Linked DNA regions of Homo sapiens. The protein of the gene in region 2 interacts with the protein of the main gene of each other region in a biochemical or structural test. Each region holds a gene or a part of one and is shown on either strand. Other genes may lie near its edges. The genes, in order: FASLG, GRB2, MAP2, REPS2, CSF3R, WAS and MET.

Region 1 (3,525 bases), on a different chromosome or scaffold from region 2:
AGGTCTGTATCTGGAAGGTACAGGTGAGATTTGGGAAAGCTTTTGGCAAAAGGCAAAATGGCTGCCTGGTTTCCATTACCAGGCTCTAGAGAGTTGTTACTTCCTGGAGACAGTATTTGAACCCAATAATACTAACACTTTTCTTGTCGAGTCAGTCTTATGAACACACTTTGATCCCCTATTCTCTGGGCAAGGCCCTCTTCTAAATTGGAGACCTGGAGCTGATTATGACATGACCCCTGCCCATAAGAAGCTCATTCTTTTCAGTCATTCCAAAGTCCCTTGGGGGATTGGGGGCACAGATCCAAGAGGTGAGAGATGAGAAGGTGAGGAATGAGGACTTATTTTAGTCAGTGCTTTCTTGGTTTTCTGGAAGAGCTTCACTCTGCTTTGTCCAAGAGTATAAATAGGAGTGAGAAGGGAGACTCAATCCTGGCACTTGTAGAGTTTCAATATGTGCCTGTAAAGTGGAGTGAAATGATATGGTATGGGCACTCCCATTATAAACTACATAAATAATGGAATAAATATCACAGAAAGTGGTAGGCTATTGTCCCTGGAATTATTTAGGCAGAAATTATAGAATGATCCGGTCACATCAGCAGACACTTACTGAATACCTGCTGTGTGCCAATTTGGGGATGTGAAGATGAGTAGCACATGGCTCTTGCCCCCAGGGAGCTTGACATCTAATAGGGAAAGACAGGCACTTATGATAATTTCAGTACTTCAGAGATTTAGGTTATGTTCATGATGTTGTGGGGATACAAAGAAAAGGGAACTGTACCCCAAATTGAGGGGCTGAATAATTCTTACTGCAGGTGAGAAGATGGACCAGATGGTCCCTAAGATCCTTCCCAACTTTAGAACTTTAGAGTTCCTTGGATTTGGCTTTTTCCTTCAGGAAAGGACTTCAAAGCCTAGCAGATTTGGTGCTAGTTCTGAAGATAGTAAAATCTTTGTTCCAGAGAGCAAATATTTTCTCAATAATTTCTTACTGCAATGGATTACGGGTATATACTATTGTTCCAATTGTGTGGATGACAAAATAGGACAACGTTGTTGAGGAAATTCTGTGATGGATCAAGTTCTGACCCCTCAGCCAGTTCTATACCAGCTGTCATTCTGGGTGAAACATTTGTTGAAGGAAGGGCCCACAGTTTTGCCTTAGAAACTTAGTTTGTTGGATGCATGACTATTCCTTGTTGAAAGCTCCTTTTGGATTTATTTCAGGCAAGTCCAACTCAAGGTCCATGCCTCTGGAATGGGAAGACACCTATGGAATTGTCCTGCTTTCTGGAGTGAAGTATAAGAAGGGTGGCCTTGTGATCAATGAAACTGGGCTGTACTTTGTATATTCCAAAGTATACTTCCGGGGTCAATCTTGCAACAACCTGCCCCTGAGCCACAAGGTCTACATGAGGAACTCTAAGTATCCCCAGGATCTGGTGATGATGGAGGGGAAGATGATGAGCTACTGCACTACTGGGCAGATGTGGGCCCGCAGCAGCTACCTGGGGGCAGTGTTCAATCTTACCAGTGCTGATCATTTATATGTCAACGTATCTGAGCTCTCTCTGGTCAATTTTGAGGAATCTCAGACGTTTTTCGGCTTATATAAGCTCTAAGAGAAGCACTTTGGGATTCTTTCCATTATGATTCTTTGTTACAGGCACCGAGAATGTTGTATTCAGTGAGGGTCTTCTTACATGCATTTGAGGTCAAGTAAGAAGACATGAACCAAGTGGACCTTGAGACCACAGGGTTCAAAATGTCTGTAGCTCCTCAACTCACCTAATGTTTATGAGCCAGACAAATGGAGGAATATGACGGAAGAACATAGAACTCTGGGCTGCCATGTGAAGAGGGAGAAGCATGAAAAAGCAGCTACCAGGTGTTCTACACTCATCTTAGTGCCTGAGAGTATTTAGGCAGATTGAAAAGGACACCTTTTAACTCACCTCTCAAGGTGGGCCTTGCTACCTCAAGGGGGACTGTCTTTCAGATACATGGTTGTGACCTGAGGATTTAAGGGATGGAAAAGGAAGACTAGAGGCTTGCATAATAAGCTAAAGAGGCTGAAAGAGGCCAATGCCCCACTGGCAGCATCTTCACTTCTAAATGCATATCCTGAGCCATCGGTGAAACTAACAGATAAGCAAGAGAGATGTTTTGGGGACTCATTTCATTCCTAACACAGCATGTGTATTTCCAGTGCAATTGTAGGGGTGTGTGTGTGTGTGTGTGTGTGTGTGTGTGTATGACTAAAGAGAGAATGTAGATATTGTGAAGTACATATTAGGAAAATATGGGTTGCATTTGGTCAAGATTTTGAATGCTTCCTGACAATCAACTCTAATAGTGCTTAAAAATCATTGATTGTCAGCTACTAATGATGTTTTCCTATAATATAATAAATATTTATGTAGATGTGCATTTTTGTGAAATGAAAACATGTAATAAAAAGTATATGTTAGGATACAAATAATTTTTAGAATTTACTAATATTTGAATTTTTTGCTTATTATTTCTTTCCTCCTTGATTTCTTCATTCATTATGATATCAGACCACTTTTAAGAATAATTTACTGGAGTGAGAAGAACTATGAATCAAATCTTTCTGCCTTTGCTAGGCCTTCCTTCTCTCTATATATTCTCTTTCCTCTTCACCTCCCAGAGTTTCCATTACCAATATTATGACCAATGTTAAGCTTAGCCAACTTTCCATAGATTTGATGAGAAATTATATTTTCCTGAAGGCAGAACCATGGCACAGTGGAAAGGGCACATATTTTGGACTAAAAAACTTAGATTTGAATCTTTGTTCTTCCACGTACTGCCTATGTAAGCACTGGTTAGGTCACTTGACCTTCCTTGAACAAAAAAAGAGCTGAAAGTATCAGACACATAGAACATCAAAAAATAGTGTCTGCCACTACTAAGCCACTCTATTAGAGCCACTTCATTCTCCAGAGGCCACTGATCTGTGGGATCCATCTAAGCACCTGGTTTCTTGTATTCTCATGCTTGTCATTCACAACGGCCTTTTCCTATTTTCTTCAACCACTCACTATCATGGGCTCTCCCTAGACTTTGTTATCATTAAAAATTATAGTAACTCCTTTGGAATTTGATTTTAGGTGTCTTATTTTCACAACATCATCTTCTATTATTCCAGCGGAATTGGTCCAACATTTTCTTTTCTAAAATATTTTTGAAAATATTGAGACTTCTAATTAATAAACTTTATTATTTTCTTATATACACATCAGCTCCTTCCACGTCTTCACTTCTCTCTATGTCCAGCATAAATGTCATCATCTGTCATGACAACCAGCACCTTGGAAAGACTCTCAACTCCAAAATACTCTCTTCCTCCAATGTATTCCCCTTGCAAAAATCCTATTTTCTTTAAGCTGTCATCCCAGAAGCTGGATGTTGCTGGACAAAAATTACACAAACAGGCTGCCTAGTTTTAGTTTATTTTTATCTAACATGAATTTAAATCAATCAATGATTGATCTG
Region 2 (4,388 bases):
TTCACAGGGTCTTGCTCTGTCATCCAGGTTGGGCTCAAGTTATCCTCCCACCTTAGTCTCCTAAGTTGCTGCGTCTACAGCTGTGCACCACTATGCCTGGCTAATTTTTTATTTTTCGTAGAGACAGGGTCTCACTGTGTTGCCCGGGCTGGTCTTGATCTACTGGGCTTAAGCAATCCTCCCACCTTAGCCTCCCAAAGTGCTGGAATTAACAGGCGTGAGCAACTGCACCTGGTGCCAGATTTTTTATTTCTTGATCTGGGTGCTTATAACAGAGTTGTGGTTTTTTTGGTTTTTGGTTTTAATTCCAGTTAGAGTACTTTTTAAACATTATAATTTGTACTTCACTACAATTTATTTTTTTTAATTGAAAATAAAATTGCGTTAATTTTAAGCTGGGGGCAAGAAAACACAGCAGCCATGTCTATGTGACACCAGACAGAAAGGTCTGGAAACCTAAGTGTTAGAACCGCCAACACGTGCTGCCTCTGGGGAGTTTGAGGGAAGCATCTTACTTTTTATGTTTGCTTCATGTACATCTAGGCTATTTCAGTTTATATTCATTATTTTATACCTACAAATGGGAAAAAACCTCCCTAGTGGAGAGATCTTGGGGGCCTAGGAGGAAAGAGAGCCTTGCTGATTGAGAATCTTCACCCTCACCATTGCTATTGGAAGTGGCAGTGGTGGGGAGTGTGGGGCAGTGTGGGGAGAGCCAGCCGAGGCCATGTGTGGATTTTCACTGCTGTACCCAGTCAGATGCATGCTGCATACACTTATATTAGAAACCCAGGGCCCCCCGATATGAGAAGGTTTAAATACCGTTGATTGGGGCCCCCCGATTGAGAAGGTCTCAATACCGTTAAGTGTCCTTATTTATTTATTTATTTATTTATTTATTTATTTTTTGAAAGCGAGTCTCGCTTTGTCGCCCAGGCTAGAGTGCAGTGGCGCGATCTCGGCTCACTGCAAGCTCCGCCTCCCAGGTTCACTCCATTCTCCTGCCTCAGCCTCCTGAGTAACTGGGACTACAGGCACCTGCCACCACGCCTGGCTAATTTTTTGTATTTTTAGTAAAGACAGGGTTTCACCGTGTTAGCCAGGTTGGTCTCGATCTCCTGACTTTGTGACCCGCCCGCCTCGGCCTCCCAAAGTGCTGGGATTACAGGCGTGAGCCACCACACCCGGCCTATTTAATTTTTTTGAGATGGAGTTTCACTCTTGTTGCCCAGGCTGGAGTGCAATGGCACGATCTCGGCTCACCGCAACCTCTGCCTCCCGGAGATTCAAGCGATTCTCCTGCCTCAGCCTCCCGAGTAGCTGGGATTACAGGCATGCGCCACCGCGCCTTGCTAATTTTGTATTTTTAGTAGAGATGGAGTTTCTCCATGTTGGCCAGGCTGGTCTCGAACTCCTGACCTCAGATGATCCGCCCACCTCGGCCTCCCAAAGTGCTGCGATTACAGGCATTGAGCCACCGCACCCAGCCTCCTTTTTTATTTTATTTATTTATATATTTTTTTGAGACAGAGTCTCACTCTTTCGCCCAGGCTGGAGTGCGGTGGCACAGTCTCGGCTCACTACAACCTCTGCCTCCCAGGTTCAAGTGATTCTCCTGCCTCAGCCTCCCGAGTAGCTGGGATTACAGGTGCCCACCACTGTGCCCATCTAATTTTTGTATTTTTGGTAGAGAGTGGGTTTCACCACGTTGGCCAGGCTGGTCTCAAACTCCTGACCTCAAGTGATTCACCCCACCTCAGCCTCCCAAAGTGCTGCAATTACAGGCATGAGGTACCGGGCCCAGCCTGTCCTTTTATATTTAGAGAGCATTCTATTCTAGTGATATGTGATTTCTCTTGTGTGGCCTGATTTCCAGGCACTGCAGGCCCTAGCCTTGAGTTATTTGTAGAAGCAGGAGGATCTATTGTCCCAGCTCCTCAGCATCCTGGCAGTAGAGTATGCAAAATGAGAAAGACTCCAAGCAGGTAGATGTCAGACTATTCAGAGTTACTAAGAGTCCCTAGAGGCTGACACACACACACAAGGACAAAGTTACTAAGGGCAGCTTCTAAGTGTATCCTTCCTAGCAGATCACATCTTTCTGTTTGAATTTGAGTATAGTATATTATTTTAGGTACATCTTCCAATATGGTTGCTTATAAGTAAGATATGTAAATTAGCCGGGCGTGGTGGCTCGCGACTTTAATCCCAGCACTTTGGGAGGCTGAGGCGGGCAGATCTCGAGGTCGGGAGTTCAAGACCAGCCTGGCCAATATGGTGAAACCCCGTCTCTATTAAAAATACAAAAATTAGCTGGGCGTGGTGGTGGCCGCCTGTAATCCCAGCTACTAGGGAAGCTGAGGCAGGAGAATTGCTTGAACCCAGGAGGCGAAGGTTGCAGTGAGCCGAGATCGTGCCACTGCACTCCAGCCTTGATGACAGAGTGAGACTCTATCTAAAAAAAAAAGGGCCGGGCGTAGTGGCTCATGCCTGTAATCCCAGCACTTTGGGAGGCCAAGGCAGGCGGATCAACAAGGTCAGGAGATCGAGACCATCCTGGCTAACACGGTGAAACCCCATCTTTACTAAAAATACAAAATATTAGCCGGGCATGGTGGCGGGCGCCTATGTATAGTCCCAGCTGCTCAGCTACTTGGGAGGCTGAGGCAGGAGAATGGCGTGAACCCGGGAGGCAGAGCTTGCAGTGAGCGAGATCGTGCCACTGCACTCCAGCCTGGGTGACAGAGCTAGACTCCTCAAAAAAAAAAAAAAAGAAAAGATATGTAAGTTAGATTTACAACTTTAATGGACTATTTGGTCCATTAAAAGGACTTTTGATATTATAATTAGCATATTAAATGAATGCCAGTTTCCATGTTTATAGGTCTTTATTTGCTATAACTTTTGCTTTTAAAAATGATAACTAAAGACAATTTTGAGAAGAGAACATGGTTTTCACAGTTTCTTCTTCCTAATTATAGTTTTCATTTGAAATAGTGAGGCAGCTTGACTTGAAGCTCTTGTAGAAGTGTTCCTCTCCTCTTCCTCTTGATAAGCCACAGCCAGTTGCTTCACAGTTTTTCATGAATTTAGCCACTTTTTCTTCTGGCCAAGGTGAATCAGCAATTGGGAGCAGAAGAGTCTGCAACTTGCCTCAAAAATCTGAATTTTGCAGCTAGCTGCTGAGCATATGGTAAATTACAATATTCCTGGTGGCTTCTGAAAGCTGAACTCTGAGCAGTGGCCCCAGAGGCAGGCCTTGAGAGGAATGCTGACCTTAGTTACTGGTAGAGGCACCCTCATACTATCTGAACCTTTTGCCTTTGGGCTGTTAGCAAAAGTAACCCTGCCTCCAGCTCCTGGCCGTCCAGGTTTCCTCCCCACTTTCCCTTAGTCCCACTGTGGTGAAGCTGTGATCTTATCACATGGCTGCAGGAAGGGGCCAGTCTCTCCTTGGCAGTTCATCCCGTACACCAAGCCCAAAGGCCTGAGCTTTTCCCCAGGCGCCTTTGTCATGAGTCAGTAGGGAGTCCAGTGGGCTTTGGCCTGGGGGGCCCATTTTCAAATGTCTCCCTCTATAGAAAGAGTGACCCACGGTTAGTGCCTTGGTGAGTCGCTTTCTGGGAAATGGAGTAGGCTAAAGACCTTTGAAGGTCCATCTCTGGGGACCCAACCCAGTGTCGATCTTGGGCACTGTGAGGCTGGAGGATGAGGAGGGAGGCCCCTTCCTCTGGCAAGGAGTGTTGTGTTACTCACATTTTGAAGGCTGGATATCCCGTTTCTTTGTGGGGAAGCAGATGTTGACCAGCTTGCCTTCCTTCCTTAGGTGGTTTTTTGGCAAAATCCCCAGAGCCAAGGCAGAAGAAATGCTTAGCAAACAGCGGCACGATGGGGCCTTTCTTATCCGAGAGAGTGAGAGCGCTCCTGGGGACTTCTCCCTCTCTGTCAAGTAAGTATTTCCTGCTGCAGTTGCCTGGAATCCTGTCTCTGACTGATCCAAATTGTGAAGCCGTTGGTCAGGTGCCTGGCTACACACAAAATGGTGGAGGCTTAGCCTAAACAGTTTCTTCATTTCACATTAAAATCCTAATTTCTGGCTCCTCTCAAAATGAGTTCTAGAAGCACTGGATGTAGATTCCCATGTGGACACAGCCTTCAGGAGGTGAGCAGCAGCTCCCTGCAGCCAGCTGGAGCCTGCCAGTTTTCCCTAGTGCCCAGCACTCCTGAGCTTCTGCCCTCCAAGGGATTCCCGCAGCTCTCTCTAATGGGATAGTGGAGCGCCTGTCGGCTGCCTTGGCTTGCCTTGCTCAGGTCCACTGACTTAAATCAACCAGCCCCATCCTAGGCCCTCACAGTCACTTAAGAAGGCTGCTGCAGGGGATGTGGGG
Region 3 (4,388 bases), on a different chromosome or scaffold from region 2:
AACTGCTTGCTCCAAACTTACAGGGAACGAGTCCTGTTTCAACATATCTGTGGTAGGCTCTTGGTCTTTCTGTTCTGAGAAAGTGTGCTCTGTGGAGGTCTGAATTATGCCTATTTCTTCATCTGCAGGTTTTGGGGGTTTACTCTCTTTTGGCACAGCTTCTTTGTCAGAAATGGTGGTTTTTTCTTCAAGCTTCAGCTCAGTTTCCTTTTCAGTAAGTATAGGTTCCTGTCCACTGGGGGTGAAAGTATCCCTTTGCTGCACAGTCTCTTGATTTATGGCCTCCTTTTCTTCCTCTAAAACTTTCCCCATAACATGTTCTTCTACAACTGGAATGTGAGCATCTTTGGGTAAGGTCATTGCCTCTGAGGGTGGTGCTTCTGCCATTTTGTCAGGTTTAGCCTCATGGGGCTCTTCAATTTTAAAACTATCTTTGGCAGTAGCTGGGCCACTGGTTTGTTGCAGAGATTTTTTGTCATCTGGCTGTAAAAAGGCAGGGGCAAAGGGCGATGTTTCTGTAACTATTTCATTCTTCATGACATCTAAAGGAAGAGTGAAGCTTCCCCCTTGAAAGGGACTTGGCATGGGAGAATCAAACTGTTTCCCTTCCCATTTTGGGATATCATCAAATACATCTTTTTCCCTCATGGGAGTCAGAGGGCCAGGAGATATGGGGGCAACTAAACCCCACTCATCCTTTTTTGCTTCCGTTGGCATTTCGATGAACCAGTCCTTTTGTTCTTTTGGAGTTGGAGGCTCTTTAGGGAGGTCAATGCCAGGTACTACAAGGCTTGGTTCTGTCTTCTGTTTCATGTCTTCCAGGCTGGCAACAAGAGTGTGCCCAAACAAAGCTAGGGGTGCTTTTTCTTCTTCCGTGCCTTGCATGTCCTTTTTATCAGGGTAAGTTTTAGTTGTCTCTGGCTGAGAAACTAAGGCAGCATGTTTAAGGTCTTCACCAGGCTTACTTTGCTTCTCTGACTCCTTTTCCTTCTGGTCTGAAGGCTCAGCTGTAGAGGGAGTCAATTCCTGTTGATCGTGGAACTCCATCTTCGAGGCTGTAAGTAAATCTGAAGTAATCGGGTTGATTTTTAAACAAATAATAGGCAAGTGCGTTCAGGAAATAAGCTTAAAATTATATTTTGAAGTGATAAATGAATGGTAGAATAAAAACAAAAATTATGGAACATGCAAGCATGCTACCCATGTAAAAGTCAATATGAAAAGGTCAGGACTGAGATATATGTGTACTATTACTAAAATGAACTCTGGTTGTAAATTAATGTGCAAAGGAATTGTAAGAACAGTATATTTCTGGATATTCTTTTCTCTTTTTTTCTTTGTTTTTTTTTTTTTTGGTCTCTCCTAAACATTATGTGATGTGTATTACAGAAGAAACAAATTCATGTGCCTTCTATACATAAAAGTTATAAGCTAATGAATATTGAGTAAGCAGCTAATGTTAGGGTACAAAAGAATATATAGTAAGGACTAAATATAGATAAAGAATTGATTTATACTGAACATTTTCATTGGTTTTATCATTTAAAAATGAATTGGTAGGCTATGGGCAGAGGGCCAAGTAATGCACAATGATATAATGTTAATAGTTGCAGTTAACTTGATTAACAAATGTCAGGGCCAATTCTTTAGGCATCCACAGGTTACTGGCATAAATTTTTAGAATTCATCTGAGGATAAATTTCAGAAATATAAGTAAATATTTGCTATCAATTTTATATGATATGACTTAAGAATTTACAAGCCAGTTTCTATTACATATTTAAAAATTTAAATTCCTAATCATTACTTAGTCTGTACGGTAGATATAAGAAAATCTGAATTACACTGTTGATACTGGGAAGTCATGTGAGTAACAAACTTTTCAAAAGAGTCAACTATTGAAATAACTTTATTCCCATGGTCATGACCTCAATCCTTGGAGCATGACTAACTGGTGAAGCATTGGCCAGTATTGGCTTTAGAGGTGCTTCACAGAAATTAGATAACACATTTTTACTTTTATTTATTCAACAATCCAAAAGGCTTTATTGTCCCACTTGTGTTTTAAGGTCAAAGTAGTTCACTGTGGTCATTAGAGCTAAATGTAGTTATCTGGAAAAGATTTGGGGAAAAATAATAAAATTCAATCATCTCTAAAAGAGCAAGTGTATGGATCATCATTACCTTATATACTTATGTGTCCTGTTGTAACAATAGAAAAAAAAATACTTGATGAACTTCTAATAAAGGTTAGATGAATGAAAACTCAAGAGATATGGGGATGATCAGAAGGGCTGGCTGCCATGGGGAGAAAATGATATGAGAAGCATCAGCAGGAGGTCAAGAAAATCAAACCAGTATTCATTGAAGCATAAAAAATATAGCACATTTCGGTTGCAAACAAAAACGATTCCACCATTTAAGCCTCTATGTGCCAAAATCCAACTGTACGATTTGAAATAAAAGCATATGAATTGCTGTCCCCAAAATAAAAACAAAAATATACATGTATTAGCAATGTGACTGGCAAACATTTGAGATGAGGGGGGGCGGGTAAAAAAATAAAATAAAAAAAGAAGCTCACATAGCATCATCAGCCTGGCTGCAAAGCGTATTGTATCATGGCAAAGGAAAACCAGGAATCAGCTGCAGCACTGGAAAACCAGCTGCCACACAGCACTTGCGCAAGCCACACTCTCTGCACATTAAGCCTACAACAGTGGACTTGTTATCATAAGACCCAGCGATGAAATAGCGAAATAGCGTTGGAAAGGCATCAGGTTGGTAAGCCACTGGAGAGATCATTTGCAACAAAACACATGCAAATCCTGAGAAAGACACACCTTCCCCAGCAGAGGAAGGGGTTTTTACTTCTGGAGACACCTCCTTGACCTCTTTTACACTTTTCTCATGTGGGGCCCCTGCTGGGGCACTCTCTTCGGGAACTATTTGGGCCTCCGCACTAGACTCCATTTGGCCCTTACTGAGGCCCTTGGGTTGGTCTGAGGACTTAGCAGCCCCACACTCTTTCTCAGGAAGAGCAGCAGGTTTCTCTTCCTCAGCCATCCGACTCTCTAGCGTTTCTTCTTCTTAGGGATGAAAAAGATGTTGACATCATGACCACAGAACAATACATGAAACGACAGAAATATTGCTAAAGGAACACTTTCAGCTCCATTAGAATGACCTCATGAAGACCTCAGCTGTTTTTTTATTTTACCATTGGGATGAACAAATTAATATTCTAATGCAACATACATTAGGTACTGGTTGGAAAACTATGATGTATAATCTGCTAATAGTGATGACTTTTAAAGTCTCATTAAAAGGCAATTTATTTTAAAGTTTGAGAGCTGAAAGGGTTGTATTGATTGATTACCCTTATTGGAAACGGCAGTAAGTTGCACGCATGTGGAAAGCTTGCTGGAAATAAGAGATGGTACTGCCGGATAACAGATGGTTGTGAAAAGATGGATGTACTGATGTACTGAAAAAAAAAAGCCTTTAAATTTGTTAGACATGTGCTGTTTTCGCCAATGCAGGAAGCCCCTACATAAGAATTCCCGGCTGCTTTATTTAAAATGTGCAAATTTTGCTAAAGAAATCTTTGGGAATAAAAAAAGCCTTGCTTCAAAAGAATATCCAACCAACTACCTTAACAGCTTTATCACAAAGTCCACCAAATTTACTTAAAATATAATTTATTTAGCATTTCCAAGGTAAGGGACTACCTAAGTCAAGTTATGTTAGCTTCATTGCATTGTATGATGTTGGAGAAAATGAACATTTTCAAAAAGTAAGTAAAATAAAATGTGTTAAAAACAAGGTCAAGGTTAAATTTAAATCTGTTTACAAAAGTCTACCTCTGGGACACAACTATTATCATATTGTTAAACTCCCTGAAATATCAGTAATGTAGTTCATGTATAATTCTCTTTGACACTAAAGAAAAAATATGCACATTAGTAATAAAGTCTTATTTCTGTAATTCAAAACAAAATCACCAAGGAAAGATAATTGAGTGGCAATCAAACGGCCAAAATAACCACCCCCCAAACCATGTATATCACATAAAAAAGTTAACATTTAAGATGTAAAGATAAACTTTTCAAGTTCATGAGTTATTGCACTAATTTGTTTCTCATTTACACTTGAAATGTCAGTAAAAATAAGTAAATTCCATTTGGTCACTTAAGGAATTAGAGAGAAATATATGAGCTGTTTTATAGTTTTGTAAATGGAAGATTCTTACAAAATTCTTATGAAATAATTGTGCATTGTTTAAACGGCCCTGAGGGAAAGACTACAGATAAAAAGAAAAGGAATTTTCTTTTATTTTGTTTTTTAGAAATATTAATATCCTCAGAGAGAAACAGAGAGAGAAAAAA
Region 4 (4,388 bases), on a different chromosome or scaffold from region 2:
AAGAAGTCTGTAGAAAAGGTTTCTCCTATTATAATAAATGTGTTTGGAGAATGCTGCTTCATATTCCCTTGTTGAGGGAAGGACTAAATCCTCAGTCTTGGAAATTCGTAGTGCACATTAGCACGGTAAAAGCCCTGAGAAGTTCTGCAGTGAAGAGACCTGGAAATGTGTGTTTACTAAACTTCTTTCACCAGGAAATTCTTTCTTGGGGAACATATTTGGAATACTATCTTGGGAAATGCTGCCATTACCCATTTAGCAGGTTTGGAACCAGAACAGGGAGGATAGGCTTTTAAAATTAGACCACTAATTGCAATGGTCAGATGATGATTGGTGGAGACAACAGTATAAAATCTCAGAAGAGTGGGCAGATCCAGAAGAAGTAAATAGTCTACACATTGGTGTACCCTGCAGGCATCAAGGTATAGCTCATACTTCCAGCAAAGATACTGAATCATGCAGAGAAGTCAAATTATGTTCAACATAGTGTCTTCTATAAGGTAAAGAAATTTATTATAGGAACACTTGAGGCTGGGCACGGTGGCTCACGCCTGTAATCCCAGCACTTTGGGAGGCCAAGGCGGGTGGATCACAAGAGGTCAGGAGTTCAAGAGCAGCCTGGCCAACATGGCAAAACCCTGTCTCTACTAGAAATACAAAAATTAGCCGGGCGTGGTGGCATGTGCCTGTAGTCCCAGCTACTTGGAAGGCTGAGGCAGGAGAATGGCTTGAATCCGGGAGGCGGAGATTGCAGTGAGCCGAGATCACATCACTGCACTCCAGCCTGGGCCACAGAGCAAGACTGTGTCTCAAAAAAAAAAAAAAAGGAACACTCGAATGAAAATGTTTTTAAAATGCAATGAATATTAAATGATTATGTTGGAAAACTAACTTCTGTGACTTACCCTGTGATGTTGTGTAGATGAGGTGTTGCTACAGAAGTTTTATATGGATAGTTAGGGGAGGTGTAGCACATCCTGTTAAACAATTCCATGTACTGTCACTTTCATAATTCTGACACATTTTAAATCAGTTCTTCAGGGATATATTTAAAAAGGAAGAGGTATAGGAATTTTCAGTCAATATTCTTTGGCATATTTTCCCACCAGCATTTGGAGAGGAATGAGGGTCCACTGTCCCACGGTGGTTGATGCCCTGGGAAATTTCCAGGCCCAGTCCCTGATTGTGTGAATGAGAATACATCCTTTCACTTCAGGCTGAGTTTATGCATGCCCCACCCAATCTATGGGTGTGAGCTCATGCTTTAGAGCAAACATATTTTGCTTTTTCTTGAAGAAGAGTATTTGATCAGTATTTCAGATTACATATTTCTCTTTAGACTAAGGGAGCCTATATATATAGTCTGTGTGTTGATAGAAAGCATTGTTTTGGCTGGGTGTAGTGGCTCATGCCTGTAATCCCAGCAGTTGGGGAGGCCGAAGCAGGAGGATTGCTTGAGCCCAAGAATTCAAGACCAGCCTGGGCAACATAGCAAGACCTCATTTCAAAAAAAAAAAAAAAAAATTAGCTGTGTGTGGTGGCGCATGCCTGTAGTAGCTACTGGGGGTGCTGAGGTGGGAGGATTGCTTGAGCCCAGGAAGTCAAGGCTGCAGTGAGCTATGATCACGCCACTGTGCCCCAGCCTGGGTGACAGAGCGAGACCCTGTCTCAAACAAACAAACAAACAAAAAAAAGCACTGTTTTCTTGGTACTTGAATACTCCAAAGTTACCAGTCTACTAGTAAAGTTTTTTTTTTTTTTTTTTTTTTTTAAAGAGGAAACTCAGCAGCAGATAAGGTTGCTTACTTTGCCTAGGGTTCTACATCAGGTTCATATTTGAATTGAGATTCAAATTGTAGCTTGTTAAGATTTCATCTTAGTGTTTGGGAGTAAGCTGGTTGGAATGGTTTACCTATAATGAATTGTTTTGCAGTCTCTCATTGTTAAAAAAAAAAAGCTAGCATTTTACTTTGACATGGTAAGCTCCAAGAATATTAAGTATTAAGCATTTAGAAATATATATTTTAATATTCACATTTGCTGGAAGACTTGATAAGTATAAATCCAGGAAATAAATTTATTAATGAATGAAAATGAAATCTATCCACAGAGAGATCACAATTGGGAGCGGGTATGAATGTTATTTCATGTGATCAGTGTCTTTCATTTTCCAAAGGAAAATATTATTGGAATAACCAAAAGTGTTTCAGGCTGGTTTTAGTAATTTAGGTAACTCAGCACTGATGAGATTTTATTCTCTGGGAGACTTTTTGAATCCTCAGACACTGCTGTTTAACCATGCTGCATTTTTGAGAAAACATTTCCCCCCATTTGTTAAACCAGCTGGGTCACCAGCAGTAGAGTTGCGTTATGCTTCCTGACTGCAGCTCAGAACGCCAGGCTTGAGTGAGCGCCTCTGAACTCTGATCTGGTTCTTTGAAGCAGGAAACACAGTCTCCCACGATGTCACCCCTCGCCTCCCCTCCTTCTTCCCCGCCTCATTACCAGAGGGTGCCCTTGAGCCATGGCTACAGCAAACTGCGGAGCAGCGCAGAACAGATGCATCCAGGTAAGAGGCGACCTGGGGGCCAGCTGTCCCAGGCAGTGTCTTAGAGACTCCTTAATTTACCAGGCGGTAACGCTTCAAGCTGCTTAATTTCCTGATTTAATTACCCCTGTCTTTGGAAACATGGCTCAATTTAATTTTATATTCTCAAGCAAGGTTTTTTTTTAAAAATTGATTTAAACATATTTGAGTAATGTTTCATCTCCTGTCCTAGAAACTAGTTCGTCTTTAGACTTGTAAACAGCTAGATGATTTAATCTTTCATATACAGATTTTATTGAATAGAACATACCATATTAAGGGCTTGTATTTTTTTTGGAATTGTTATTCCTTTCTGTAAGCACACCAAAGATATTTATATAGTAACTGCTTTAATGAAATTTCTTAAGAAATATAACTGCAAAAGCAAAAGAGTTGATCCAACCTTTGAAGACTGAGCACGTAAATGAAAATATATAGGTCCTGTGCTTTGGAATAAGGATAAAGGAAATGCTAGGGGTAGCATTTTGCTGAGGGGTATGTAGCATGCACAGTTGTGGGGTTGCCTTCTTGCTCACATTTATGCTCTGCTGGCCTCGTTAGGTGGTAAAATACGTTAGTTCTGAGGATGACTTGCAGAGTTGGCTGTTTAGGCTGCAGTGCCTAAAGCACTGGAAATTCACTGCAGCATCTTGTGCCTCCTGGGGTTCAGACTCCTAGTTTAAGATATGACCAATTAAAGGTATTCTAGAACTGGATATCTGTAAACCCCCACCCCCCCAGTTTTGTTTTGTGGGCTGTGGCCCCAAATGACCCAGTTTCTGCAGGTTTTTACTGCATTAAAAATAGTGGTGACTTTTAGAGGGACACAGAAATAAAACTGCGCGCTAGGCTGAATAAAGAGAGGCTGTAATCTTGCAGAGAGAAGCAGGCGTGGCATAATGGCAATAGCTTTTGATTGGAAGCAGAAGGTGTGTGGGTTTCTGTGACTAGCTGTAGGACTTTGGGCAGGCCATTGAACATCTCTGAACCACGATTACCTCTTCTCTCTTAAAATGGAGTAACAGTATCCTAGAGGGGTATTAGAAGATTAAGTGAGAATGTGAGTATAAAATCTGTTTGGAAATTAAGTCCTATGCACATGCAAGATGATGTTGCTAATGGATAGTAACAAAAAAATCACTGTCCTGTAACTTGAATATCTCAGTGGGGTTAGAAACTAAATGGAGTTGAGAATTCTTCATTTTCCTCTTATAGTTTCCCTGATCTGATTTCCCTATTTTCAGGAGTGGGTTTTTTTTTTTTTTTTCCTATTTCTAATCTTACTTGGGTTTGGAAGTTGGTTTTTAATTCACAGGTGAAACTTTTTGTTCTACTGAGTCAGCCTGTCAGCAAGTTCTACCTTTGGTATTCCTTAGAAAACTTTTCTGTTCCTCCTCCTTAATGCCCCATTCCCTCCTCATTCCATACAAATTGGGCTTCCATTTCCCCAGTGGTAAGGAAGCAGCTTGCTTCTCTCCATCTTTCTTGACTCTCAGCAGCCTGTGCCAAAGCTGTCCATGCCTTCATTTCTTTTCATACTTTTTTAAAAGTGAGGTAAAATATACATATGATAAAATGTACCCGTTTTATTTGTTCATTTTTGAGACAGGTTCTCACTTTGTCACTCAGGCTGGAGTGCACTGGCGCGATCATGGCTCACTGTAGCCTTGATCTCCTAGGTTTAGGTGATCCTCCCACCTCAGCCTCCTGAGTTGGTGGGATTACAGACATGTGCCACCACACCGGGCTAATTTTCTTTTTGTATTTTTTTGTAGAGATGGGATTTCGCCATGTTGCCCAG
Region 5 (4,388 bases), on a different chromosome or scaffold from region 2:
TGGTTCACATCTGTAGTCCCAGCACTTTGGGAGGCTGAAGCAGGAGGATTGCTTGAGCCCAGGAGCTCAAGATTAGCCTAGGCAACATAGTGAAACCCCATCTCTACCAAAAAAAAAAAAAATCAAAAAATTAGCAAGGTGTGCTGGCATGAACCTGTAGTCCCAGCTACTCAGGAGGCTGAGGTGGGAAGATCACTTGAGCCTAGGAGGTCAAGGGTGCACTGAGCCGTGATCGTGCCACTGCACTCCAGCCTGAGTGACAGAGCAAGAACTTGAAGAAAAAAAAGAAAAGAAAAAGAAAACCAAAACAAAACAACAACAACAAAAAAAAAAAAACAGCAGGGACAAAGATCCAGAGATTAGAAAGATTTTGGAGTTTTCAAAGAATAGCAAGAATGAGCCAGAATAGCTGGAGCTGAGAGACCGGTATAAGCTGGAACTGAGAGGGTCAGGCAGGGGCCAGGCCACAGGAGCTATTGAAGGATTTGAGTGTTTATCCTAATGATGGCAGCAAATACTCACATGCCAGACACTGCTCTAAATGCCTTCCATATGTTATCGCATGTAATCCTTCCAGCAACACTAAGGTAGGGACGATTTTTATCCCCATTTTACAGATGAGAAAACTGAGGCACAGGAAGTCTTAGAAATATACCAGGATCATGTAATTAATAAGCAATAGAACCAGAATTTAAACCTAGGCAGTCTAGTTCCAACATCCACACTCATCCATCACACCACACTGCCTTTCAGAGCAATAATGTGCCATTGAAGTGCTGCGATGGAGATGGGGTAGCAGAATCAGATTTGAATTGTGAAAAGATTGCTGTGGCTATGGGTTCTTATCACTCTAATCACTGCTTGCACCATCCTTGGGGAGGGCACTGGGGAGTTAACAGTCTCCATCTGGTGGTGTGCTGGTGCTGGCTTGCAAAAACTAATTGTGCACATCTCTTCCCAACTCCCCGATCAATGATGTCACATCAATAGGCTGAAATCAGCTACAGTGAGAGCACTTACACCGCGGAAAGGCACACACTACAAACCAGGGTCTGCTTTTCTCTGCCAAGCTGGCTGATAAACGGTTACCAGCACATCACTATCTCTGTGTCACCCCCGTAGCCTCTCGAAGTCTCCGTCCCCATCCTTCCATTTCCAGCCCCCATATCTTGAAGGGTGAGACAGGAAGGTGAGGCCTCTGAGTCTAGGAGTACAAAGGCCTAGATTATAGCCCAGCTCTGCTAGGCAGAGGCGTCGTTCCTGGCCCATTCTCTTCCACCCCAGGTCTGGAGGAGTGCGGGCACATCAGTGTCTCAGCCCCCATCGTCCACCTGGGGGATCCCATCACAGCCTCCTGCATCATCAAGCAGAACTGCAGCCATCTGGACCCGGAGCCACAGATTCTGTGGAGACTGGGAGCAGAGCTTCAGCCCGGGGGCAGGCAGCAGCGTCTGTCTGATGGGACCCAGGAATCTATCATCACCCTGCCCCACCTCAACCACACTCAGGCCTTTCTCTCCTGCTGCCTGAACTGGGGCAACAGCCTGCAGATCCTGGACCAGGTTGAGCTGCGCGCAGGCTGTAAGTCCTTCCAGCCATCCAACTACTCTGCCTCCAACACCCTCCTGCCAATACTAATAAGAATATTACCAGCCGGGCACGTTGGCTCACGCCTGTATTCCCAGCACTTTGGGAGGCCGAGGCAGGCGGATCACCTGAGGTCAGGAGTTCATGATCAGCCTGGCCAGCAAGGCGAAACCCCGCCTCTACTAAAAATACAAAAAAATTAGCCAGGCATAGTGGCGGGTGCCTGTAATCCCAGCTACTCGGGGGGCTGAGGCAGGAGAACTGCTCGAACCCAGGAAGCGGAGGTTGCAATGAGCTGAGATCACACCACTGCACTCCAGCCTGGGCAACAAAAGCGAAACTTGGTCTCAAAAAAAAGAAGAAAAAAAAAAAAGAGTACTACCTATTGAGCTCTTATCTAATAAGCACTTTATGGGCATGATATCAGGTAACAGTAGTACCAGTTGGTACTACTATGTAGCCTCACTTTGCAGATGATGAAACTGAGGTTCAGGGAGGGTAAGTGACTTGCCCTTATCACACATTAATAAGGATGGAGGCAGTGTGGCTCTAAAGCCAGTGTTGTGACCACTACTCTACATAGCCCAAGTCCTCAGCCATCTGAGGGTGTCTCCAGGGAGAACATCCTCTACCAGCTGGGCTTGTCCCCCACCCCAGTTTCAAACTTCCTTTCAAACTGAGCAGGATGGAGTTTGTGCCAAGCTGAGGCATAAGGAAAAAACAAAGACCGAGGTTCTTGTTTAAGAATCAGTAATGGGCCAGGTGCAGTGGCTCACACCTGTAATCCCAGCACTTTGGGAGCCTGAGGTAGGTGGATCATTTGAGGTCAGGAGTTTGAGAACAGCCTGGCCAACATGGGGAAACCCCGTCTCTACTAAAAATACAAAAATTAGCCGAGTGAGCCGAGATCACGCCACTGCACTCCAGCCTGGGCCACAGAGTGAGACTCTGTCTCAAAAAAAAAAAAAAAAAAAAAAAAAGCACCAGTAATGGCCACTGCTAACACTTACATAGCATTTCCTGTAAGTTAGGCACTGTTCTGAGCACTTCATGTAGAGTGAGTCATTTAGCCCTTGTGATAACGCTAGGGGGTGGGATTTTACCATTATCCCCATTTTACAGATGAGGATGCTGAGGCATGGAGCAGTTAAATAACTTCAAGATCACAGGGCTAATGAATGGCAGGACCAGGATGAAAACTCAAACACTACACTGTCACTGACAAAGGGTCTAGAGTTGGGGGCCTTGGAAGTGGGCCACCACTGGGCTGCTGGGAGTCTGTGATGCTTGCCCCGGTGCATGCCTGCAACTTAGCTTCCCCCAGGGCTGCCCTTCCAGAGCCACTCTGCCTGGAGACAGGGGGACAGACAAGGTGACAACAGAGGAACCAAGCCAGGGCAAGGCAACAGGGCCAGCTGGTCCCAGAGGAAGCTTTCTGAGTGGTCCCACCCAAAGCCCTCACACTCTTCCCACCCACATGCAGACCCTCCAGCCATACCCCACAACCTCTCCTGCCTCATGAACCTCACAACCAGCAGCCTCATCTGCCAGTGGGAGCCAGGACCTGAGACCCACCTACCCACCAGCTTCACTCTGAAGAGTTTCAAGTGAGGAGGGGCCCCCACCTTGGTCCCCTCCCTTTGGATTCTGGGGTAGGGCATGGGTAGGATGCTGGGCATGCCTCTGGGAGGGAGAAGGGAGCCTCGCTTTCTTCCTCTGCTTGGCACCCAAGCCTGGACTATTGGCAGGAGCCGGGGCAACTGTCAGACCCAAGGGGACTCCATCCTGGACTGCGTGCCCAAGGACGGGCAGAGCCACTGCTGCATCCCACGCAAACACCTGCTGTTGTACCAGAATATGGGCATCTGGGTGCAGGCAGAGAATGCGCTGGGGACCAGCATGTCCCCACAACTGTGTCTTGATCCCATGGATGTTGGTGGGTGATGCAGGGGAGGGAGGGGATCCCCAAAATGGGCAGACACTGAGAGGAATGGAGAGGGAAACACAGAACTAGCGACAGACAAGAAGACACTGGAAGACCTAGAGACAGAGGCACAGAAGAGGGACAGAGACAAAGAAAGGTGCAGCTGGAGACAGAGAAATGGGGACACAGACCCAGAGACAGGAAGAGACACAGAGGCAAAGAGACACATTCAGTCATGCTTTCAGCGTGTTTCCTAAAGCACCCACTACATGTTAGGCACTGCTCTAGGTACTGGGGATACAAAGCATCAAAAATGCCCTCAGAATGTTAGATTCAAGTGGGGGGGAAAATAAGATAGAATTTCAGATAGCAATAAGCAGAAAGGAGAAATTAAAGGAGGAGAAGGGCATAGAGAGAGAGGGGGGAAGGGGAGCACTGGCTATTTTAATATGCTGGTCAAGAAAGGCCTCACTAAGAGGGTGACAATTGAGCAGATCCTTGAAGGAAATGAGGGAGCAAGCCGCTGGATATCTGGAGGGAAAACATTTCAAGCAGAAGTAACAACCAGTGCAAAGGCCCTGGGGCAAGAGCGGAAACAGAGACCTAGAGAGAAACAAAGACACATAGAGATCGAACCACAGAAACGTGTCATTGGCAACGTGGACAGATGGTGAACCACAGACAGGGAGACAAGAGGGAGCTAAGGCAGAGCCCTCTAGGGTGGGATAGGGAGACCTTCTGACAGCCCCACTCCTTGCAGTGAAACTGGAGCCCCCCATGCTGCGGACCATGGACCCCAGCCCTGAAGCGGCCCCTCCCCAGGCAGGCTGCCTACAGCTGTGCTGGGAGCCATGGCAGCCAGGCCTGCACATAAATC
Region 6 (4,914 bases), on a different chromosome or scaffold from region 2:
TCACTGATTCATTCATGTTTTCATTCCCTCATGCTTTATCATTCACTGGCTCATTGACTAATGAATTTGTTAAAATATTCATTTACTCATTTATTCATTCAATCATGCTTTCTTCACTGACTGAAACTTGTCATTTAGTCATTTATTCACTGTTCATTCATTCACTCATTGATTAATTTACTCAGTCATCCATCTACCTTTTCATTCATTTATCCACATACCCATTCACCTATGCATCTATCTACTTAGACTTTCATCCTCCCATCAATTCATCCCTCTACTCAGCCATCTACCGCCAATCCATCCACCCATCCATCAGTCCACACATCCATGCACCTGCTCGTCCATCCACATACCTATCAATCTACCTATCCATTCACCCACTTACGCACCCATCCAACTCCTCATTCCTCCATCCACTCTTACCCATCCATCCAGAGACACAGGGAAGAATCAGCACGCACCTCCTTGGTCTCCACCTGGATGCAGGGGCAGGGGTGGGAGCCCTCCTCTTCTCTCTGGGAAGATGGAATGTGTAGAGAGTTATCACAGCCCTGCCACAGGTTCCTGGGCTAGCCCCTTATTACCCCTACTTGCACTAGAGGACTCACCTTCATTGGCTGGTGTTGGTGGTGGGGGTAGCTGGCGTCTGTCTGTGGATAGATGGATTGGGAGCCAGGACCATGAGAGGGGACTTTTCTAGTTCCCCAGGCTTGCACTCACCTCTGCCCAACTTCCTTTCCTCCCCTGTGGCCTCCTCACCTCCACTTTGCCTCTGATTCCTTTTTTGTATCTTCTCCTGCACGAGGGCCCGGAAGGCCTGGGCCTCGTCCTCGTCTGCAAAGTTCAGCCCCGCTTGGCAGTCCTGCACATACCTTGGGGTCAGCCGCCTCCCAGGTCCCCCGCAACTTTCCCATCTCCTCTCCACACCCCAAGTGAGGCCCGAGGGCTGGTTGATCACTTACATCTCCAGCGAAGGTGTGGAAGAAGGGGGTGGGGGTGGAGTAGACAAGCTGTGAGTACAGCTCCTGTTCCCAGAGCAGCCGACCAGCCTGGAGAGGTGTAGGGTGGGAGGCACAGTGGCACTGAGGCACGCCGGGGGTGGCAGGCTTTTGTTAGCTGGGCAGGGAGCAGGGTGTCTGGATTTGGGAGCCTCATAGTCTGGTTTGGAGATTTTCAGCTCAGCACCAGAGAGTTGGTGTCTAAGGGTGTGGATTGTGGGGTATAGTCTGGGAGCCATACACTTTTGTGAGAGGTTTGGATTTGGGGTTTGGGGCCCTAGATCTGGGACTTGGGGGCTTGAATTTCATAATTTAGGACTCTAGTCTTAGGAAGTTGAGGCTCATTCACAGATTCAATCCATGCCCTCCCCCACCACCCCAGCCCCAATTCATGACAGGTAGGATTCTAGTATTTGGGGGTTGGAGTTGAGATTTGAAGTTCAGACACATAGACTTGGGAGTTTCGCGGGGAGTCCAGCTAAAGTAAGTGCAATTTGGGGTTTGTGGAGAGAGTTATGGTTTAGGAGTTTGGTGGATATTTGATAGCCTTGGGATCTGGAAGTTATGCTGGGTCCATCTTTATGGGTTTAAAAGGATGAATTTGGGGCTTAAACCTAGAAAGTTCAGGTCAGGGGATTGTGGAAAAGACTTTTTGCTTAAGAACTACCTCGGTATTTGAGTGTTCAGGAATTTTAATATGGGAACTCTGGGGTCTGTGCTGTGGATTTAGAAGGACAGATTTGGAGTTCAAGGATCAATGGAATATTCAACTTTGGGGTTTGTTGAACAGATTTATGACTTAGGAGCTTGGCAAACATCTGGGGTTCAGGAGTTTTGATGAGAGATTCCTGGGATGCAAAATGTTGAGTTTAGAATAGATTTGAGGTTCAGGTACAAATACAGTGCTCATTTATTGGAATTTGTGGAAAAGATTAGGCTTAGGCAGCAGACTAATACTGGGGGCTTTAGAGATCTTGATACGGAGACTGGGGCCAGTCATTGCAGACTTAGAAAGGCAAGTCAGAGTTTGCCATCTGGATGAGTCTTTGGTTCTGGGGCTCAGGGATTCACTGATCAGGTCTGAGGTCTTGAAGCTATGGACACATATGGACACAGATCTGGGTTTGCGGGTTGAGAACTGGCTTGCAAGTCCAGTCGGGGGTGGGGGGGTCACCTGAAGGCCGTAAAGGCGGATGAAGTAGGACTTCTGGGGGTTATCCTTCACGAAGCACACAGCCCCACAATGCTCCTTGGTCCAGTGCTCAGCTCCAGGGGGCAGCGCCAGGTACAGCTGAACAACTGCAGTGGCCAGCGTCTGGGAGAGGAAAGCAGGGGTCAGTGGAGTCTGGTCAGGGGTAGCCACAAGGTCTTGGAGCCAGACCTGGTCCTTCCTGCCTCATGACAGTCATGGGCCCAAAGGAAGAGCTGCAGCCAGAGGGAAGGCAAGTAGACATTGAGATCTTCCTGGGAAGGGTGGATTATGACGGGAAATTCTAGGAGAGGAGATGATGGAGAGGGAAAGGAGGAGCGGGAGGAGGGGAAGAGAGAGAAGGAGGAGAGGAAGAGGAAGAAACGGTGGGGACGGGGCGGGGGCAGGAGATCCCCAGCTCACCAAGCATTTTCGTCCAAGCATCTCAAAGAGTCGCTGGTTCTCGTGGTCCTGGAGGAGGGTGGAGGGTATGTTCTGCTGAACCGCTGGTGCTCCTCGGCCCCCGGGCCTTCCTCCCATTGGGCCCCCACTCATGGTGCTTTCTGCCCTTGTCTTCTCTGGCGAGGCTCTGGGTGCAGGGTAAGAAGAGGAACTTCCGCAATGAGCAGCAAGGGAACAGGAAATGCAAAAAACCACAAGGGACAAGGGAAACAAGTCCTCCAGGGGCCCCTTGGTGGGCCTGGCCTCCTCGTTAGGCTGAGCTTGGGCCCTCCGCCATCAGATTGGAACCCTCCTCCACTTGACTGCTTAGACCCACCTTTTGGATCAGCTTGGGTCCTCCTCCCCCTTTCTTACTCTCTGGGGCCCATCTCCTTCTGACTGGCTCAGACCCTCCTCCCTCTGGCTGGCAGCGAGAGCTTAGCACATCTGTGTGCAGGGCTCCCTGTGGCAAGGAGTAGTCATGGGCCTGGGTGGCCTCCTTTCTAAAGCACCTAGGTAGCCTGAGGCTGAGGCCCGAGGTCCCTAGTCCGGAAGGGTTACTACAGTAAAACTTTTCCTTTTGGCTGGGGACAATAGCTCACACCTGTAATCCCAGCACTTTGGGAGGCCGAGACGAGTGGATCACTTGAGGTCAGGAGTTCAAGACGAGCCTGGGCAACATGGCAAAACCCCATTTCCACTAAAAAATACAAAAATTAGCCAGGCATGGTGGCACACACCTGTAGTCCTAGCTGCTCAGGAGGCTGAGGCAGGAGAATCGCTTGAACCCAGGAGGCGGAGGTTGCAGTGAGCTGAGACTGCACCACTGCACTCCAGCCTGGATGATGACAGAGCAAGACCCTTGTCTCAAAAACAGCAACAACAACAACACAACAAAAACCCTTTTCCTTTTAATTACAGAGCGAGCCCCTGTGATCCACGCCTATCGTGAGTGCTTAGACACTGCCAATGACGCATATGCCTCTGGTCCACTTCCCCATCCCTTACCCTTGCCTCCCCGCAGCTCCCAAATTACTTTCTGCTTGTCATACTTTTTTTTTTCTTTTTTTTTTTGAGATGGAGTCTCACTCTGTCGCCAGGCTGGAGTGCGGTGGCACGATCTCGGCTCACTGCAACCTTTGCCTCCCGGGTTCAAGTGACTCTCCTGCCTCAGCCTCCCAAGTAGCTGGGACTACAGGCACACGCCACCACGCCCAGCTAATTTTTTTGTATTTTTAGTAGAGACAGGGTTTCACCATGTTGGCCAGGATGGTCTCGATTTCTCGACCTCGTGATCCACCTGCCTCGGCCTCCCAAAGTATTAGAATTACAGGCGTGAGCCACCGTGCCCAGCCCATCCCTTTTTTAAAGAAAGGAACTTTATATCATATATGAATGCCTGAACAACATCTTGTTTAGTTTTCATTGCACTTGAAGTTTGTAAAAGCACATAATCTTCAAAGGCTTGCTTTCTCCCCACTGGACATCCTAGTTTTATCTTAACACTCACATAGCACTTAACGTGTGTGCCAGTCACTGTTCTGACCCCTTTGCCCGGAGTGCGAGCCAGGCAGGCCAGGTGTGAGTGCATGGTCTCGTCCCTCCACGCCTTCACTCTTGGCTGTTGCTGTGATTCCTGTTTGCCTATAGTGGTAGCTGTTCATTTATTTCCACTGCCATACAGCATTCCATGGTGTGCATGTGCAGCCTGGGTGTCCATATTCTCCTGTAACAGCCCTTTGGGCTGCTTCTGGTTCTTGCTGTTGGGAGCAACACTGCAGTGTTCACTCCCGCACACATCTCCTGGTCCACATAGGCATGCAGACTCTCAGACGGGAATCTGAGGGCTGTAGGGTTTGCATGTCTCTAACTTCTCCAGATGATGCCAGACTATTTCCACAAGTGAATGCTAGCTCAGTCCCCGGCCTCCCCAGGCCTCAGTTTCCCCATGTATGAGGTAGGCCATTTGGAGACTTGAAGCTCTCAGATACAGGAACAGCAGTTTGGGGGAGCTGAGCAGGTCTGGGGTGTGACTGACATTCCCAGGTACCTGAAGGAGGAACGGCACATCTCCAGTTGGGACCTGCAGTCCTTCCTGGAAACTTCCATGGCTTCCCACACGTGCAGGTTCAAAGCCTCTCTCCTGAACCTAGGTTCAGAACCCCTTCTGCAGTGGCAGTTCCAACCTCCCTCCCGTGTCCCCACTCACAGCTAAGCTTCGGGCCTGGAGCACCTCCAACCTGCTGATCAGGGCAAGCCCCGATGTGGCCTTCAAGGCCATTG
Region 7 (4,388 bases), on a different chromosome or scaffold from region 2:
GAAGAATTTATGGTATTGCCTACAAAGAAGTTGATGAACCGGTCCTTTACAGATGAAAGGACTTTGGCTCCCAGGGCGCTCACCACACAGTCAGGACACTGGCTGGGCTCTTCTATCTGTGGGGAGAATATGCAGTGAACCTCCGACTGTATGTCAGCAGTATGATTGTGGGGAAAGACATGTCGCTGGCAGGTCCCTCTGTTGACGCTGCCACAGCTAATGAGTTGATCATCATAGTAGGTGTCGACAACTAGAGCCATGTTGATGTTATCTTTCCAAACACCTCCTGATAAATTGGCTTTGCTGCTGCAGTCCTGACATGGGAAACAATCTGGGTGTTCCAGCACAGGCCCAGTCTTGTACTCAGCAACCTTCTGAAGGTCTTCCTCATTTAAAACATAAATGTAGTTAGTGGCACCAAGGAAAATGTGATGCTCATGTAGAATGACATTCTGGATGGGTGTTTCCGCGGTGAAGTTGGGAAGCTGATACTTCATATTCACATTCATCTCGGACTTTGCTAGTGCCTCTTTACACTCCCCATTGCTCCTCTGCACCAAGGTAAACAGGAGCACGAGGATGCCAGGTGCAAGCACAGCGGGGGCCTTCATTATGAGAGGTTTATCTGCCAAAACAGGTTCAAGGCGAGAGCAGTTCAGTTGTCAGAAATGAAGAGAAAACTGAAAGACCTATACCATTTAATCTATCAGAAATAAAGCTTCCCAACTGGACTTTTACATAGAAGGAAAACAAAAACTCTAGCAAGTTTCACATAAAGATGCATTGTGCGGTTGGACATGACTCCACATAGTTTAATTTTAGAACTCAAGCCATGAACGAATAATTTTAGAGAACCATTGAGATGCAAACAATGTTCTGTATTAAGGTTGATACAGTAACTAAGTTAGACTCATTCAGCAATGAAAGAAAAAACATAGCAACTTTCTTTCTTAACCCCTTGCTGGTTGTTTAACGTGGTTTAATAACTGTGGTTAATGACTAGGTTGATATTTAAACTTTCTCTGTTAGTCAAGTAAAGGAACTGTGGTTCACATTCATTTATTCTAGAAATCACAGCAGGCATTGTTTTCTTGAGCGCATGTAGAATTACTAGGCTAAATTTAGCTTCCTTTTGGAAGAAAACAATCATAAATTCTAGAAGCAATATGATCACATGCTGTTTATAGGATTTTGTGTGGAGAGGAATGGTATGGTTATAATTTGGCTATAGTTAACCTATTGTTTTAGACAGACAAATGTTTAATGTAAGATCACTGGGAACTGAAAAACAGGAGGCTGAAAATGTATAAAATACAACATAATCTTCAGAACTAAAGTCCTAGAACTACTTCTCAGGGAAAAACAACATATTGTTCATTACCAAGTCAAAAAGCTATTTAGTAAAAAGAACATTATTTTAACATTTCATTGTATGCATATAGACAGTATTTCTATGAGGAAACATGAATGGGCCTGTTATTCAGTATTTAAAACTTAAGGTGCACAAGTTATAAACATTGTGAGTTCTCCTTATAATAGTTATAGGCAGGGTAGTAGGTTGGAAAGGAGAGGCCTTAGAATGAATATAAACTAAATAGGTATGACTTTTTTTTAAATAGCATAATTCTGATAGGACAAAGGGAGCCTCTAAAAACATACTAGGCATCATGACTGCCAAAGACTAACCCTGGATCTACAAAAACCACATCAGAAATCACTGAGCAGCTGGTATGTGCAGGGCACTGTGCTTGCGCTATGAGAAATGGGACATAGCCCCTGCCCTTCAGTGAAGCTGCAATGTGGCTGAGTGATAACACATATATGCTGATTATTGTGGCACTGCAAATGGTATTACAATACCCTGCATAGCACAAACCAAAAGCTACAAGTATCAAGGGAAAAAAGCACAGCCTGTACTTAGGATTATTATGATCATGAGCAATAGAGACAAGTTCACCATGTTGTGAGGTCCAGGAGAGCAAGGACAAGGTCTGCTTGGCTCATCATTGTATCCCAAGTACCTAGTACAGAGCCTGAGATGCAGAAGGTGTTAAACAAATAGATACTGAATAAATGATGAATAAAAATTAAGCCGAAATTCGAAGTTACATAATGGTTAAGTGTAGTAGCCAAAATTTGCGTCCAAAATTTTTTGACTCCAAATCAAAAATAATTTTACCCTACTAATAGTCTAAGAATTGGGGACTTTAAGAGGTGATTAATAATCATTAAGGAATTTTGAGCTAGACCGTCATACAATGAAGGTTTTACTCTAGGAAGATTGATCTGGAGGCAGGGTGGCTTAGAACAGAGAGATCCTGGCAATGGAAAGACCAGTTGACAGGCTATTTTTATATCCCATAATGAGGTAACAAGAGCCAGAACAAATATGGTAGCACCAAGGATAGAAGGAATGAATAAGGGACATATTTGAATAAGTAGGATTTGATACCCTAATATATCAAACACAGTGCAAAAAAGAAAGCAAAGACAAACAAAGATGATTAGCAGTTATCTGGAAAAAGTAGAACAAGTTATAAAACTAGGGTAGACTGCACTGGGAAGTTAGGCTGAATATATGGGAATGGTAGATTGGTTTTAACCACGTTGAGTCGGGTGTGCTGCTGGGAAATGAGTGCATATTCTCCTATAAGGATGACTAGCAGGTTTTACATTATTCACCAGGAAGCAGGTGCCTGGAACAAGTGAAGAATGAAAACTCTGGGCAGACAGAGCATTAGTGCCAAAGAACAGAGGCGGAAATGAGAAGGATTCTGAGAAGCCTGCCTTGACTGGGAAAGCGGCATGATCAGTCTTGGGTGAAACAGTATCTGTCTTGAGTGAGACACATGAGTGTCAGGTATTTGCCACTGCTGCACTAGAAGGAATAAAAATTTAGAACTTGATTGGCAGAGTAACAGAGACTCCACTCCGACTAGAAATAAACTTTGCACATTATCTGCACAGAGGTGATGGTTAAAACCAGGAATGGGTGTGTTCATGAATGGACTAGATGAAAGAAGAGAAGGCAAATGGCCTAAATCTTAGGGGATACCCACAGTTGAGAAATCTATGCAGGAGTCAAGGAAGGTTAAGGTCAGTGAGGCATCAAGAGAGCAAATATTGCACTGTGTCACAAAAGCCAAGTGAGGGTCTCAAGGAGGACGTTGGTCCACATGGAACCCGTTTGTTGATCTTCAAGGCAGTAGTTTCTATAGTAGTATCAGATGTTAAATTGAGGGAATGGGTGATGAAGAAGTAGAATGTTTATCAAAGGGAAGACAAGCAAAAAGTAGTAACAGGGTGAAAAGGAGTTTAAATTGTGGGAAAGACATATGATTATTGGCAGGACCCCCCTTTCTTCTACTAACATTTATTGGATGTCTACAAAGACATGATGCCCTTCCCTGGGAAGCTCAAGTCACTTGATGGTTAACAGTTATCAGAATGCAGAGGAAGGGAGACCAACTCGACTGGAAATGATGCTAGAGCCGAGTCTCAAAGGAGGATAAAGAATGAAAATTCCTGGCTGAGCGCGGTGGTTCATGCCTGTAATCCTAGCACTTTGGGAGGCTGAGGTGGGCAGATCACTTGAGGTCAGGAGTTTGAACCCAGGCTGACCAACACTGTGAACCCCCATCTCTACTACAAAAAAATTAGCTGGGTGTGGTGACAGGTGCCTGTAATCCTAGCTACTTGGGAGGCTGAGGCAGGAGAATTGCTTGAACTTGGGAAGCGGAGGTTGTAGTGAGCCAAGATCGTGCCACTGGGGGTACAGGTTATGAAGGGATAAGCCAAGCTAGAGAACTGTAGTTGGACCAGAGGACAAGATGAAGCCTCAGTAAGGCAAAGCCATGTAATAATAAAAATAACAAGAACATGTATTGAGTGCTTACCATATGGGAAGCATTCTGCTAAACTCTTTGATTTACTCTTCATCACCACCCTGTGAAGAAGGAAGTATTATTATCCTTCTCTTCTAGATAAGCAAACTTGCTAAAATCACACAGTTAGAACCAAGATTCAATTCCACGTCTGGCTAACAAGAACCCATCCATGCTCTTAAGTGCTTCACTATGCCGAAGCAGCTTCCAAAGCGAGGTGGGAGCATGCACTAGAACAGAAGTCAGACAATCAGCCCTCTGATTCTAGCCCTTTCCCTCTCTAGCTGTGTGACTCCAGGCAATCACCCACCTCTGAGTCCCAGGGTCAGATATTCTCACGTGACCATTTTAAGGATCAAAAAGAGATCTCATCTCTGAAAGCACTTTGATCAATATAGAGTATATATAAATGCTTGCTATTTTATCTGTAATTCTCATTGTTTTGCAATGTACTAGCAAATTTTTGGTGCTGGTAGAGGGAATAACAAGGGATAGAAGAAAAGG

The links.
Region 1: the proteins of GRB2 (region 2) and FASLG form a complex in vitro, tested with the Homo sapiens proteins (2 studies listed by BioGRID).
Region 3: the proteins of GRB2 (region 2) and MAP2 form a complex in vitro, tested with the Homo sapiens proteins (3 studies listed by BioGRID and IntAct).
Region 4: the proteins of GRB2 (region 2) and REPS2 form a complex in vitro, tested with the Homo sapiens proteins (2 studies listed by BioGRID and IntAct, with this or other methods).
Region 5: the proteins of GRB2 (region 2) and CSF3R form a complex in vitro, tested with the Homo sapiens proteins (2 studies listed by BioGRID, with this or other methods).
Region 6: the proteins of GRB2 (region 2) and WAS form a complex in vitro, tested with the Homo sapiens proteins (2 studies listed by BioGRID).
Region 7: the proteins of GRB2 (region 2) and MET form a complex in vitro, tested with the Homo sapiens proteins (3 studies listed by BioGRID and IntAct, with this or other methods).

Annotation. Positions count from the first base shown.
Region 1 is NC_000001.11:172,664,389-172,667,913, forward strand, and holds the end of FASLG (tumor necrosis factor ligand superfamily member 6), read left to right. Parts: coding exon 1-2; intron 3-1,233; coding exon 1,234-1,628; 3' UTR 1,629-2,488; downstream 2,489-3,525. UniProt on the Homo sapiens protein: Cytokine that binds to TNFRSF6/FAS, a receptor that transduces the apoptotic signal into cells. Involved in cytotoxic T-cell-mediated apoptosis, natural killer cell-mediated apoptosis and in T-cell development.
Region 2 is NC_000017.11:75,325,459-75,329,846, reverse strand, and holds part of GRB2 (growth factor receptor-bound protein 2), read left to right. Parts: intron 1-3,826; coding exon 3,827-3,949; intron 3,950-4,388. UniProt on the Homo sapiens protein: Non-enzymatic adapter protein that plays a pivotal role in precisely regulated signaling cascades from cell surface receptors to cellular responses, including signaling transduction and gene expression.
Region 3 is NC_000002.12:209,689,304-209,693,691, reverse strand, and holds part of MAP2 (microtubule-associated protein 2), read right to left. Parts: intron 3,090-4,388; coding exon of another isoform or gene 2,844-3,089; intron 1,068-2,843; coding exon 1-1,067. UniProt on the Homo sapiens protein: The exact function of MAP2 is unknown but MAPs may stabilize the microtubules against depolymerization. They also seem to have a stiffening effect on microtubules.
Region 4 is NC_000023.11:17,022,617-17,027,004, forward strand, and holds part of REPS2 (ralBP1-associated Eps domain-containing protein 2), read left to right. Parts: intron 1-2,442; coding exon 2,443-2,569; intron 2,570-4,388. UniProt on the Homo sapiens protein: Involved in ligand-dependent receptor mediated endocytosis of the EGF and insulin receptors as part of the Ral signaling pathway. By controlling growth factor receptors endocytosis may regulate cell survival.
Region 5 is NC_000001.11:36,472,570-36,476,957, reverse strand, and holds part of CSF3R (granulocyte colony-stimulating factor receptor isoform a precursor), read left to right. Parts: intron 1-1,284; coding exon 1,285-1,581; intron 1,582-3,070; coding exon 3,071-3,194; intron 3,195-3,335; coding exon 3,336-3,523; intron 3,524-4,271; coding exon 4,272-4,388. UniProt on the Homo sapiens protein: Receptor for granulocyte colony-stimulating factor (CSF3), essential for granulocytic maturation. Plays a crucial role in the proliferation, differentiation and survival of cells along the neutrophilic lineage.
Region 6 is NC_000023.11:48,681,685-48,686,598, reverse strand, and holds the start of WAS (actin nucleation-promoting factor WAS), read right to left. Parts: upstream 2,801-4,914; 5' UTR 2,746-2,800; coding exon 2,614-2,745; intron 2,317-2,613; coding exon 2,176-2,316; intron 1,053-2,175; coding exon 966-1,052; intron 866-965; coding exon 763-865; intron 654-762; coding exon 612-653; intron 519-611; coding exon 465-518; intron 1-464. UniProt on the Homo sapiens protein: Effector protein for Rho-type GTPases that regulates actin filament reorganization via its interaction with the Arp2/3 complex. Important for efficient actin polymerization. Possible regulator of lymphocyte and platelet function.
Region 7 is NC_000007.14:116,695,308-116,699,695, reverse strand, and holds part of MET (hepatocyte growth factor receptor isoform b preproprotein), read right to left. Parts: intron 3,947-4,388; exon of another isoform or gene 3,940-3,946; coding exon of another isoform or gene 3,897-3,939; intron 626-3,896; coding exon of another isoform or gene 612-625; coding exon 1-611. UniProt on the Homo sapiens protein: Receptor tyrosine kinase that transduces signals from the extracellular matrix into the cytoplasm by binding to hepatocyte growth factor/HGF ligand. Regulates many physiological processes including proliferation, scattering, morphogenesis and survival.